2 separate regions of the Homo sapiens genome follow, and region 2 is linked to region 1. The links come from fine-mapping of genetic effects on gene expression. A gene starts in region 1. The other region holds a variant in brackets. All regions are shown on one strand. Distances are from middle to middle. Region 1 holds the start of PODXL2 (podocalyxin like 2). Region 2 overlaps LINC01471 (long intergenic non-protein coding RNA 1471).

Region 1 (5,373 bases):
CATCTCTCCCTTTCCTTCTTTGTCTTCCCTTCCCAATGGTCTAATAGGAATTGGCAAAGATTTTGAAAACCCTACTGAAGAAAAAGGAATCTGGTATTTTCCCGGTTTTTCATTCCTTTTCCAGTAAACAGTTTCATTTTCTTAAAGTTATTTTTCCCTCTAATGACTGTTTTGTCTTTACATAGAACTTGATATTTTCAAAGGCCTTGGCAATGGGTATTTATTTAAGTAATTACAAGAGGTTACTTATTTTCAAACTTGCCCACCATAAGATGACACCAAAATAGTAGCTGAGACATAGCCATTCTGTGTATAATTAGTTTTGCACTTAATAATTAATCTGCCTTAATTGAGACCCCACCTGACTTAAAATTTCAGAATTACACTCTGCGTGTGATTGATTTCCTTTTTCCCTCTAGCACCTATAATTTTCTGTTACATCATCACACCCAACAGAGGAGAGAGAAAAAGATGGCACATGAAAAGGATTAGGGGATCAGCCTCAAAGAAATGAAAATCTGACCCAAACAAACACAGAAGGAGGCAAAGGAAGCAGGCTGACATTTGGGGAGGTGAAAAAAACAAGACCCCAGCGATCCTCATGTTTTATCTTACCTTTTCAAATCAGTCCCTGTGATCTGCTCCCGGTGCAAAACTCCTTTCTGATTTCCACCATCAGCTACACCCCACCTCTCCCCTAAGCAGGGTCTTTGAAGTCCAGTCTCCCTAAGCTCTTGGCAGACACCAACATGGGAGGGGCCCTGCAGCATCTGTCACACAGCTCCTCACCCTTAAGTGTCAGCGACAACAGGAACTGCTGAGCACAGTCACGCTACCTCCACTCTGTAAGCACCTGAGAAACAATGCTGACAGGTCCCTGAAGGGCTTCCACACAAAGGTGTGTAAGAAAGAGACACACTGCTAGACACACGCACATGCCCTCCAAGCAGGGGGTAAGAAGTGCGTCATGAAGAGCATGCACGGGAGAGAGGAGCCGGGAGGCAGGCTGCCTGCAGTCCTCACAGCTGGTCACATAAGCACATGGGCAGTTACAGCTGGGCCTGGGTCCATGAGGACGTTGCTGGCCAGTTCTGGTTTATGACTGTCACACAAAGAAATAGCAGACCAATCAATTGATGTTTATTTATTGAATGTCGCCTTTTTCCAAAGAGGATTTACGGCGTGAAAGAATACAGGTGGGTTTGTGTGAGTGTCTGAGCCAACACTGATGGACATGTTTTTCTGTGCACACCACCTAGGGCCTTTCTTCATCCCTAGACTGACTGTGGAGAAAATGTACCCTCCCTGAACTGAGCCTTCCCATGACATGCACAGGAATGTGCGAGGGACCACTTTCCCCTCCCAGCCATTTACCCTGGGATTCTGCCACTCTGAGTCCCAGGTTCATGGCCCACCTCAGGCAAAGACTGTTCCTCCCTTCCCATAGAGACCCTTCACTAGTTTCTCTTTCACTCACACACATCTGGACACAAAGTGCCTGTGTCTTCATGGGCCAGCTGCGTGGGAAATGTCCTGTGCACACTCCTACATGCACATACACACTCCTACATGCACATACACACATCATACTAGGACGCTATTTTGACGTGTGCATCAGAAGTGAAGTTACAGCTGGCTGATGAGTGTGCACAGGCACACATGCACACTTCCTCATCCGGGTATTCCTCCAGCAGCACCAGTCACACCTTAACATACACCGTAACACACTCCCTCTGCTCTGCCAGTGTGTGCAGGAGCTGCTCAGCTATGACCTTATTTGACCCACCTTTGCAGACAGCCCTTCTCCCCGCCATTTCCATAGTGGCCGCCTGCCTCATGGGCTGTCACACCCCATGCCCACCTCCCTACACACCCCCTCCACTAAATCCCCGTCTGCGCTGGAAGCCATCAGGAGGCCCGTCTCTTTCTCTCTCAGGCAGACACATCCCTTTCACACCTGTGCCACACCCCCAGCCCGCCACGCACCCACACAGCCCGCCGCCCGGCGTGGCTGCTGAATGGAAACCACACATCTGAGTCTCACACCTCCCTCGTGTGTGAGCTGCGTGGGAGCCTCCCGCCGTGTGCTGTCACGGGCCTTCCGTGGCTGTACGCCCGTTTTTGTCAGCTCCTAATAGAGTCGCCCAGAACAGGAGAGAATACCCATTCACCGTGACACACTCACACTCCCTCCCGGCAACGCCACGCGTAAACAGCCACCCGCGCCTCAGCGTACCCGCCCCACACTCCGCAGGCGGCCCCTGGGACCTTCACAATGCGGCCTCCTCCCCGCGTGGCTGTCACACACGCCTCTTCCCCCGAGTGCGCAGGCACACAATGCACTCGCACACACACAAGCACACGCACACACATGCACACCCACACGTGCGCGCCCCCCCGGCCCGCGAGGCAGCAGCCTGCGCACCTGCCCCTGAGAGCCGCGGCGTGGGGGCCACGGTGCTGTGTCCCAGCTTCACCGCCGCGCCTTTGTCGGGGGTCGCCCGGCACGCCAGGCGCCCGCCGCGGCCCCCACGCACCCACTCCTCGTGCGCGTGTGTCGGGGCGGCGCCGCGGCCCGGCCGGGACACGCGCGCTCCCGGCGGCGCCGCACTCTGGCCCCTTTGTTGGCGGCCCGGGGAGCTGTCCAGCACCGCGCCCACGCCGCCGCCCGCCCTCCCGCGCTCGGGCCCGGAGCGCACTCACCCCCAACCAGCAGAAGCAGCAGCGGCGAAAGCAGCGGCGGCAGCCGGGCGGCCCGCAGCAGCCGGCCCATGGTGTAGCCGTCGCCGCCTGCAGCCGCAGCGGCGCGGCGCCCGGGCCCGCGTCAGGGGCCGCGCGGGCGGCGGCGGCGGCGCGCGCCCGCCCCATTGGTCCGCATGGCCGTCACTCACGCCCGGCCCCGCCCGGCCGCGTGCCGCGGGCGCGCCCCCGCGGAGACGAAGCGGACGCGCGGGCGGCCGTCCCTCCGCCCGTCCCCCCCGCCAGGCCGGCCAATCAGCACCGCCGAGGCTCGGGGGCTTGGCCCGGCCGCCCGCAGACCTGGGCCTCGCACCTCGCGCCCGGATGCCGCTCTCTCCCCGCGCGGTCACCCGTTCCCTGGGAAGCAGAGTGGGCAGCTGTGGCAGATGGGACTGATGGGACGAGGACGACGCGTGGAAATGACTGTGAGGGTGGACAGAGGCCTGGGGTAAGGAAAGACTTCTCAGGGTACTTAGATTGGGTGAGCCCTGAAGGAGAACCTGAGAGCAAAGAACTGGACTTTAGAGCTAGGCAGTCTGGCTCAGGATCAGATTGGTTCCGAGACCTTGAGTAAATCTCTTCTCACCTCTGGGCCCCACTTGCCCCATTTGCTAACTGGGGGGTTTTAGATTATGAGAGAGGTGCTGACTTCTCTAACATGTGCTCCCTTTTGGCAACTGAAGATCCTTAATATGCCAAGCACTGTAGTGGTAAATAAAACAGGCACATCCCTCGTCCTCATAGTTTAGGCTCGTAGAGAAAACAGACTGAAAAACAAAATGGACACACATATGGTCCTATGATTGCAATTGGTAGTCGGTCTGTTAAGGAGTATAAGGGGCTAGGAGACAGCACAGAGGGGAACCTTATGCTTGCCTTCCTGAAGAAACAGCATTTAAGGTAAGCTGGCTGGCATCTGGAAGGATGAGTGGGTATTAGGTAGGAGATTGGGTTTGGGAGAGAACTTACAAGGCAGAGGGAAAAGCTCACTGATAGAGTTCCTGAGTTAGAAAGAAGCTCAGCCTCTTTTAGGGAGAGAAAAACCCCGACTACCCTTTTAGAAGTACTGCAGCTTAAATATACAGCAACCACAATTTTGTGGAATGTTACTTTATATATACCATATTAGGAAAACACTTCTTTAAAATAACAAATCGTTATTTGAATATGCTTTTTCAAAGTATATCCCCACCCCCCTATGCAGGGGTATAGCATCAGACATTGGAGATAATCTCACGGGACTCTTCCAGACTAAATATTAATACTTAGGAGAAATAGGAGTTGGGGTGGAGGAGCATAGGGAAGAAATGGGTTCCAGACAAAAGAAAGAACATGAGCAAAATGTAGCACCTTTTATTTGGTGGGTGTTAGGGGTACTAGAAAAGTGGCTGTCAGCTGGGCTTGGAAAAGAGAAATCCAGGGTGTGTCTAGACCCAGCTTCCCTCTTCTTTCCTCCTCTGAGGATGAAAGGAGCATCCCTTTGGTTTTTTGTTGTGTTTTGTTTTGTTTTTCTGTTACAAGAAACAAAGATCTTAGAAGCAAACAAGAAATGGAAGGAAACGTCCTCAATTCCATTAAGGGTATCTCCCAGAAACCTTTATTATCATACTTAATGGTGAAACCATACTTAATGATGAAACATTAGAAACATTCTCTTTTAAGTGAATGGAACAAAATAATCCTCACTACCACCACAATGATTGAATATTCTATAAGAGACACTGCAACAAGGCCTGATAGAAGAAATGGGATGAAAGTATTGGGGGAAAACTCATTATTTGCAGGTTTATCTAGAAAATGCAAGATCATCAGTTGGCAAAATAATTGAAAACCAATGAGTTCAGCAAGATTGCTGAATAAAAGATAACGTACAGAAATCAATAGCTTTTCTGTGTATCCTCAATAACCACTTAGAAAATGTAGTAGGAGAAAAGATCGCAATCACAGCAACAATTATTAAAAACTGGAATAAACCAAACCAGATATGTAAGCTCCAAATGAAGAAAACTCTAAAGCTGCCAGGGGTGGTGGCATGTGCCTGGAATCCCAGCTACTTGGGGGAGACTGAGGTAGGAGGATGGATCACTTGAGGCTAGGGGTTTGAGACCAGCTTTGGCAATATGGTGAGACCCCCATCTCTAAGTAAATCAATTAGCCAGGTGTAGTGGTGCATGTCTGTAGTCCTACCTACTTGGGAGGCTGAGGTGGGAGGATCACTTGAGCCCAAGAGTTCAAGATCAACCTGGGCAACAAAGCAAGATGCCATCTCTATGAAAAATTTTAAAATTAGCCAGGCATGGTGGCACACACCTGTAATCCTAGCTACATAGGAAGCTGAGGTGGGAGGATTGCTTGAGCACAGGAGTTCAAGGCTGCAGTGAGCTATGATTGTGCCACTGCACTTCAGCCTGGGTGACAGAGTGAGACTCTGTCTCAAAAAAAGAAACAAAAATTTAAGTGAAGGCAATCCTCAGAATGGGAAGAAACATTTGGAAATCATGTATCTAGAATATACAAAGAATTTTTACAAGTCAGTAATAAAGACAACTCAATGTTTTAAAATGGACAAAGATCTGAATATACATTCCTCCAAATGTCAATAAGCACATGAAAACATGCTCAGCCTCATTAACC
Region 2 (5,373 bases), 100 kb after region 1:
GCATCTCCCCTACACCCACCACCACTGTGCAGTGCTGGTCCAATCCATTATTTTGTGCTCCAGCCTCGGTTTCCCCATTCAATTCCCCACAGTGACCTGAAGGCCAGACCCTGTCCCTGACTGGATCTCTGTATTCAACTAGGGACAGGCAAACTCCTACCCCCTGAGAGGGTGACCTCAGAATCAGTTCCCCAAGTTCCAGTTCCAGTTTGCCCCTGGCCTGCCACACTGCCTGGAACTGGCTGCCTCTCCTCCATGAGGCTCAGCCTCTCGGAGGCCACCCACAGGCCTGGCAGTGAGTGCCTCCCTGTGTTTTTTATGGAGGATGCCTCTTTTGTCTCCCCTTGTCCCAGCCTGCACAGTGCCCTCCCTTTCCACACCCCCATGCCACCCTTGGCTGAAACTGGGTGGACAGGCCAGCCCTAGGCTTATGCCCCACTCTGACACCCCACTGGGCTCTATCTCAGCCCTGAACCCAGGTCTGCCAAATTCTATTTTGGTTTGTATATAGTGCGTTTGACAGCATCTCTTTGTGCAGATTTTTCAGTGGTCATTCCAGGTATTAGATTATACATATATAACTTATCACAGTTAGCTGATGTTGACATTTTATCAGTGGGGGGGGGGGGGGGGGGAAGAGGAGAAACCTAAGTCCTTCACTTTCCCTGTTCTCTCCCCCTGTATAACAATTCTTTTTAGTATTTCCTCTACATACGTTGGCAATCACATCATTCAGTGTTATAACTTTTGCTTCAATTGTCAAGCATAATTTAGAAAACTCAAGAGATGAGGTCTATTGTCTCTATCTATATTTTGTTGACTGTGTTCTTCCTTCCTTACACTTTGAGATTCCTTCTTTTCTCATTTTATTTGTTTGGCAAACTTCCTTTAATCACTCCTTTTGGGTAGGTCTGCTGGTGACAAAGTCTCTGTTTTTTTTTTCTTCTGAAGATGTCTTGATTTCCTCTTGATTTCTGAAGGATATTTTCACTGGATGTAAGATTCTGGGCTGAGAGTTCTTTTCTTTCAGCTCTTGAAAATTGCTGTGCCACTTCCTTTTGGTCTCCATGGTTTCAGTGAGAAATCTGCTGTCATTAAAATGGTTTTCCCTTACAGGTAAGATGCTGTTTCTTTTTTCTCTCTCTCTGTCGCCCAGGCTGGAGTGCAGTGGCACAATCTCGGCTCACTGCAACTTCTGCTTCCTGGGTTCAAGCGATTCTCCTGCTTCAGCCTCCCGAGTAGCTGGGACTACAGGCGCGTGGCACCATGCCCGGCTAATTTTTTGTATTTTTAGTAGAGATGGGGTTTCACCGTGTTAGCCAGGATGGTCTCGATCTCCTGACCTCGTGATCTGCCCGCCTCATCCTCCCAAAGTGTTGGGATTACAGGCGTGAGCCACCGCACCCAGCCTGTTTCTGTTTTTTTTTTTTTTTTTTGAGGTAGAGTCTCTCTCTGTCTCCCAGGCTGGAGTGCAGTGGTGCGATCTTGGCTCACTGCAACCTCTGCCTGTCAGATTCAAATGATTCTCTTGCCTCAGCCTCCCTAGTAGCTGGGATTATAGGCATGCGCCATCACACCTGGCTAATTTTTGTATTTTTAATAGAGACGGGGTTTTGCCATGTTGGCCAGGCTGGTCTTGAACGCCTGACCTTAAGTGATCTGCCCTCCTCGGCCTCCCGAAGTGCTGGGATTACAGGCGTTAGCCATGGCGCCTGGCCAAGATGTTTTTTTCTTGCCACTTTCAAGATTTTTGTCTTTGTCTTCAGTTTTCCGAAGTCTCAATAGAAGGTGTCTTGGCATAGGTTTGCTTTGATTGATGCCATTTGGGGTTTGCTCAGGTTCTTGAATCTGTAAATTTATGTCTTTTGCCAAATTTAGGAAATTTCTAAACATTATTTCCTTGAAAATCTTTTCAGCTCCACCCTCATCTTTCTTCCTTTCTGGGTCTCTCACGACATGGATGCTAGGCCTTTTGTAATAGAGAGACCAAAATATAGACCAAAATGTATATAGGCCAAAATATACATACCCGAGATTCTGCTCATTTTTATCTAAGTCTATTTTTTGCTTTGTTGTTCAAATTAAGTAATTTCTATTATTTTATCTTTAGGTTCACTGACTCTTCCCTCCAGCCTCTCTGTTCTGGCGTTGAGCCATCCACTGAGTTAATTTTGGCTGTTGCGTTTTCAACCCTGAGTTCCCATTTTGTTCCTCTTTGTGGCTTGTTTCTCTGCAGAGATTTTCTATTTTCTCACTTGATTCTGTTGTGTTTGCCGTTGAGCATTTTTGTGATGGTGGCTTCAAATTGTTCAGATGATGCTGCTGTTGGTGTCATCCTGGGTTAGTCTCTGCATCTCTTCTCATCAGGGTCGGTGTTTTCCTGGATCCTGGTGTGGAGTGATTTGTGATTGAAGCCTGGATATTAGGGGTTATGTGGTGGGGCTCCTGGCCTTATTTAAACCTCTGTCTCAGCAGCCTCCTTTGAGGCCCGGCTGTGGTGGACTTCCTTGCCCCCAGCTGGGCTTCTCCAATACCTTCCCAAGGAGGGGTGGCATCTCAGTCAGTACATCTGGGTGAGGGTGGAGGTCTAGGCTCCCTCCTCAGTCTCTGCTGGCCAGGGTGGTGTGGGGCCTCGTCTTTTCCTGTGTGGTCTGATGGCGTAGGTCAGTTATCTTCTAAAGTTTTCCAGAATGCCCCTTGCCTGGCTAGAGGGAGCAGGTTTTTT[T/G]GGGGGATTGTTTTCTGAGCCTGTTGGTATTTCTAGGTTGCTGACTCTTTAGCACCCAGTTTGGCAAACACGAAGCAAAAAGATGGAACTCACCACCATGCTGTTGCCAGGTCCTGAGGCTCCCAGCTTGTGCTTCTCTGCACATGTTAGGGCCTCCTTGTATTCATTCTACACAGAATACCCATGACTTTTAGCTGTATTTGGTGGGGGGAAATAAGAAAAAGTACCTTGACTTCTTCCATCTTTCTGGTTGCAGCAGTTCCAGTGGGTAAAGCCCTTTGAAATTGCACACATACACCATCCTCTACGCCAGCCTCCTTCAAGATTCTGAGCTGTGCACTGCTGTTATTCATACTGTTTGTCTGCTCTAATTGTCCAATTCTTGTGAAAAGTCTAAACATGACCTTGGGTGATACCCTGGGGTGCATAGAGCAGAAAGCCAAGCTATAATGAGAGGTTCCTTGGATCTCAGAGGGTGGGCAGGGTCTGGAGGCAGGGCAGCTGGGATGGGGCTGGGCTGAGGTTTGGAGAGGCCTGGGTCCAGGCCAGACGAAAGCCAGTCCTTGGATCCACAAACACCCACAGCCAATCCATGCTAATTCTACGCATTCATGAGTTGTCCTCTAAAACTCTTCTTCCCAATTTCCTCCAAAACCCTCCATGTCATCTAGGCCAGGGTCTACTCTATGCCCCTTTGCTGTGCTCATGGAAACTTTTTTTTCTTAACTTCAAAGACAAGTGAGCTCATGGAAACCTCTCCATCGTTGACCAGGATCTATAGGAAAACCCTCCTCTTCTTCTATATGCAAAGGCTGCACAGCTCCTGGTTCACCTGCACCTCTCCAGACCACCATGGTGCCTGCAGCTCTGAGGGCATTTTAAATCATCACAGAACAACAAGCATATAAGCATCATGAGCGCCTCTGGACCTCTGACGTGCCTTGTGGAGGCCTGCCAGGCCCACGTTTTAATTTACATGAACTCGATGCCCTTTTTGACAGGGAGAGATCTGTTTCTTTATTTGTTAGCCTTTCCCCTGGACCTGCTAGATCTGGACCATCCCCAGGAAAGGAAGGTCACACCACAAAGATAAATATAAACAAAATGAGTTAATTAAGAAGGAGTTAGTCTGAAATTCAATATTCCCAAGAGTCCAAGCCCTTCAGTTCTAAGTGAATTTTTCTCCCCTGTAAAATAGAACTGTTGGGTACAGTGAGATTCCATTGTATATGGTCTCACTTAGAATTTGTCTCATTTCACATATGCAAACACTGAGGCTCTGTGAGGTGAGAGATCTGCTGCACTAGGTCCTGAAAGGCACAGCCAGTGAGCATTCAGCCCAGGGTACATCTGCTGGCTTCACAGTTGCCCTGCTATTCTGTGGTCCAATGTGGCTGCTCTAGCTCCAGCCATCACATCTGCATTCTTACCAGTGGGAAGGGCAAAGCATGACCTTTCTTTTTAAGACACGTTTGAAGTTGCATACATCATTTCTGCTCATGTTTCACTGGCCAGCATTTAAACGGATGGGCATACCTAGCTGCAGGGAAGGCTGTAGTCTTCATTCTGGGATGAAGTGTACCCAGCTAAAAGTCTAGAGTTTTATTTCTATGAGAGAAATTGAGCATGGATACTGGGGGACAATGAACCATTTCCACTTCATCTTCTAATAAATGTGACAAGTGCAATGCTTGTCATATATTGTGTATTGACTCAATTCAGAACACACTGGGCATCTACCCTGTATAAGGCCTTGGCTTGAGCTCAATGGCAGATACACATATGTGTGAGACCAAAGGGCACAGGGAGGCCAGAAAAGAGAACAAGTGACATTTATTGAAGACTTATCATGTCCTGGACCAGGAGCTTTGCATACATCATTGCTTTTAAGCTTTGCAACTCAGTAAATCTGCAGAAACTAAGTTCCAGAGAAATGAAGTGCGTCTTAGGTCTGTTTTCCAGGGAAAGAAACTGTGAGATGAAGATTTGCATTCAGGAAGTTTATTAGGGAGTAGGCTCAGGCTCGACACTGGTGAGGGAGTGAGGGAAGGAGGGCTGGGCAGAGGGAGAAGTTGATTGCGGGCAACAGAAGCCTCAGCCATTCCTACCTGAATGGCCCTTCAGAGTGGTTCTTAACTTCTAATTAAGGGGCCAGGACTCTGTACCCCCTCACCAGCCAGACATTGGATGTGGGATGCCTACCAAAGCCCCCTTCCTCCCCAGGAGGGGTGTGACCTTGGGCGAAGCGGCTGCTGCTATCCAAGGGCACTACCCAGGGACGCAGCTGTCAGGCTTCAGCCTTCAACACTCCCAAATACCTTGGTCCAGAAGGAGGGGTCTGGGCTGCAAAGGACAGTGTCTTCTAGAAAATGACACAATCAAGGTCACATAGCTGGGGGTTCAGAGCTGAGATTCCAGTTTAGTTTTGTCTTCAGAATCCACGTGACTCTTCATGTTCCTTGCTGCCTCCCAGGCAACTGCTCAGGGGCAGATGGGGCTGGCAGAGGAGGAGCCTGGAGGCTGGACCCTCCCCTGGCACATTGTCCCTGAGGACGGTTCAAGACAAGGTCCTCCTTCACAGCTCCGGGGCCCCATCTCACCCTCCTCTTCACTCTGCTCAGTGTGCTCTGGCCACACTGCCCTCTTCA

Evidence for each region. PIP is the estimated chance that this variant, and not a neighbour inherited with it, causes the effect.
Region 2: its variant is fine-mapped to the expression of PODXL2 in whole blood (TOPMed, PIP 0.96).

Annotation. Positions count from the first base shown.
Region 1 is chr3:127,626,620-127,631,992 of GRCh38, reverse strand. PODXL2 (podocalyxin like 2) reads right to left here and starts at 2,808. Exons shown (of 8, transcript NM_015720.4): 1 at 2,704-2,808. The coding sequence starts at 2,773. It overlaps LOC107986126 (a long non-coding RNA gene), which reads left to right and starts at 3,030. Exons shown (of 2, transcript XR_001740892.2): 1 at 3,030-3,187. RefSeq lists an enhancer at 2,106-2,165 and silencers at 2,566-2,695, 2,806-2,875.
Region 2 is chr3:127,526,796-127,532,168 of GRCh38, reverse strand. All of the region lies in intron 5 of LINC01471 (long intergenic non-protein coding RNA 1471), which reads left to right. Among named protein-coding and RNA genes, the nearest start is that of LINC02034, 7.9 kb to the left of the region's middle. The variant T/G (reference allele first, on the strand shown) is at 2,726.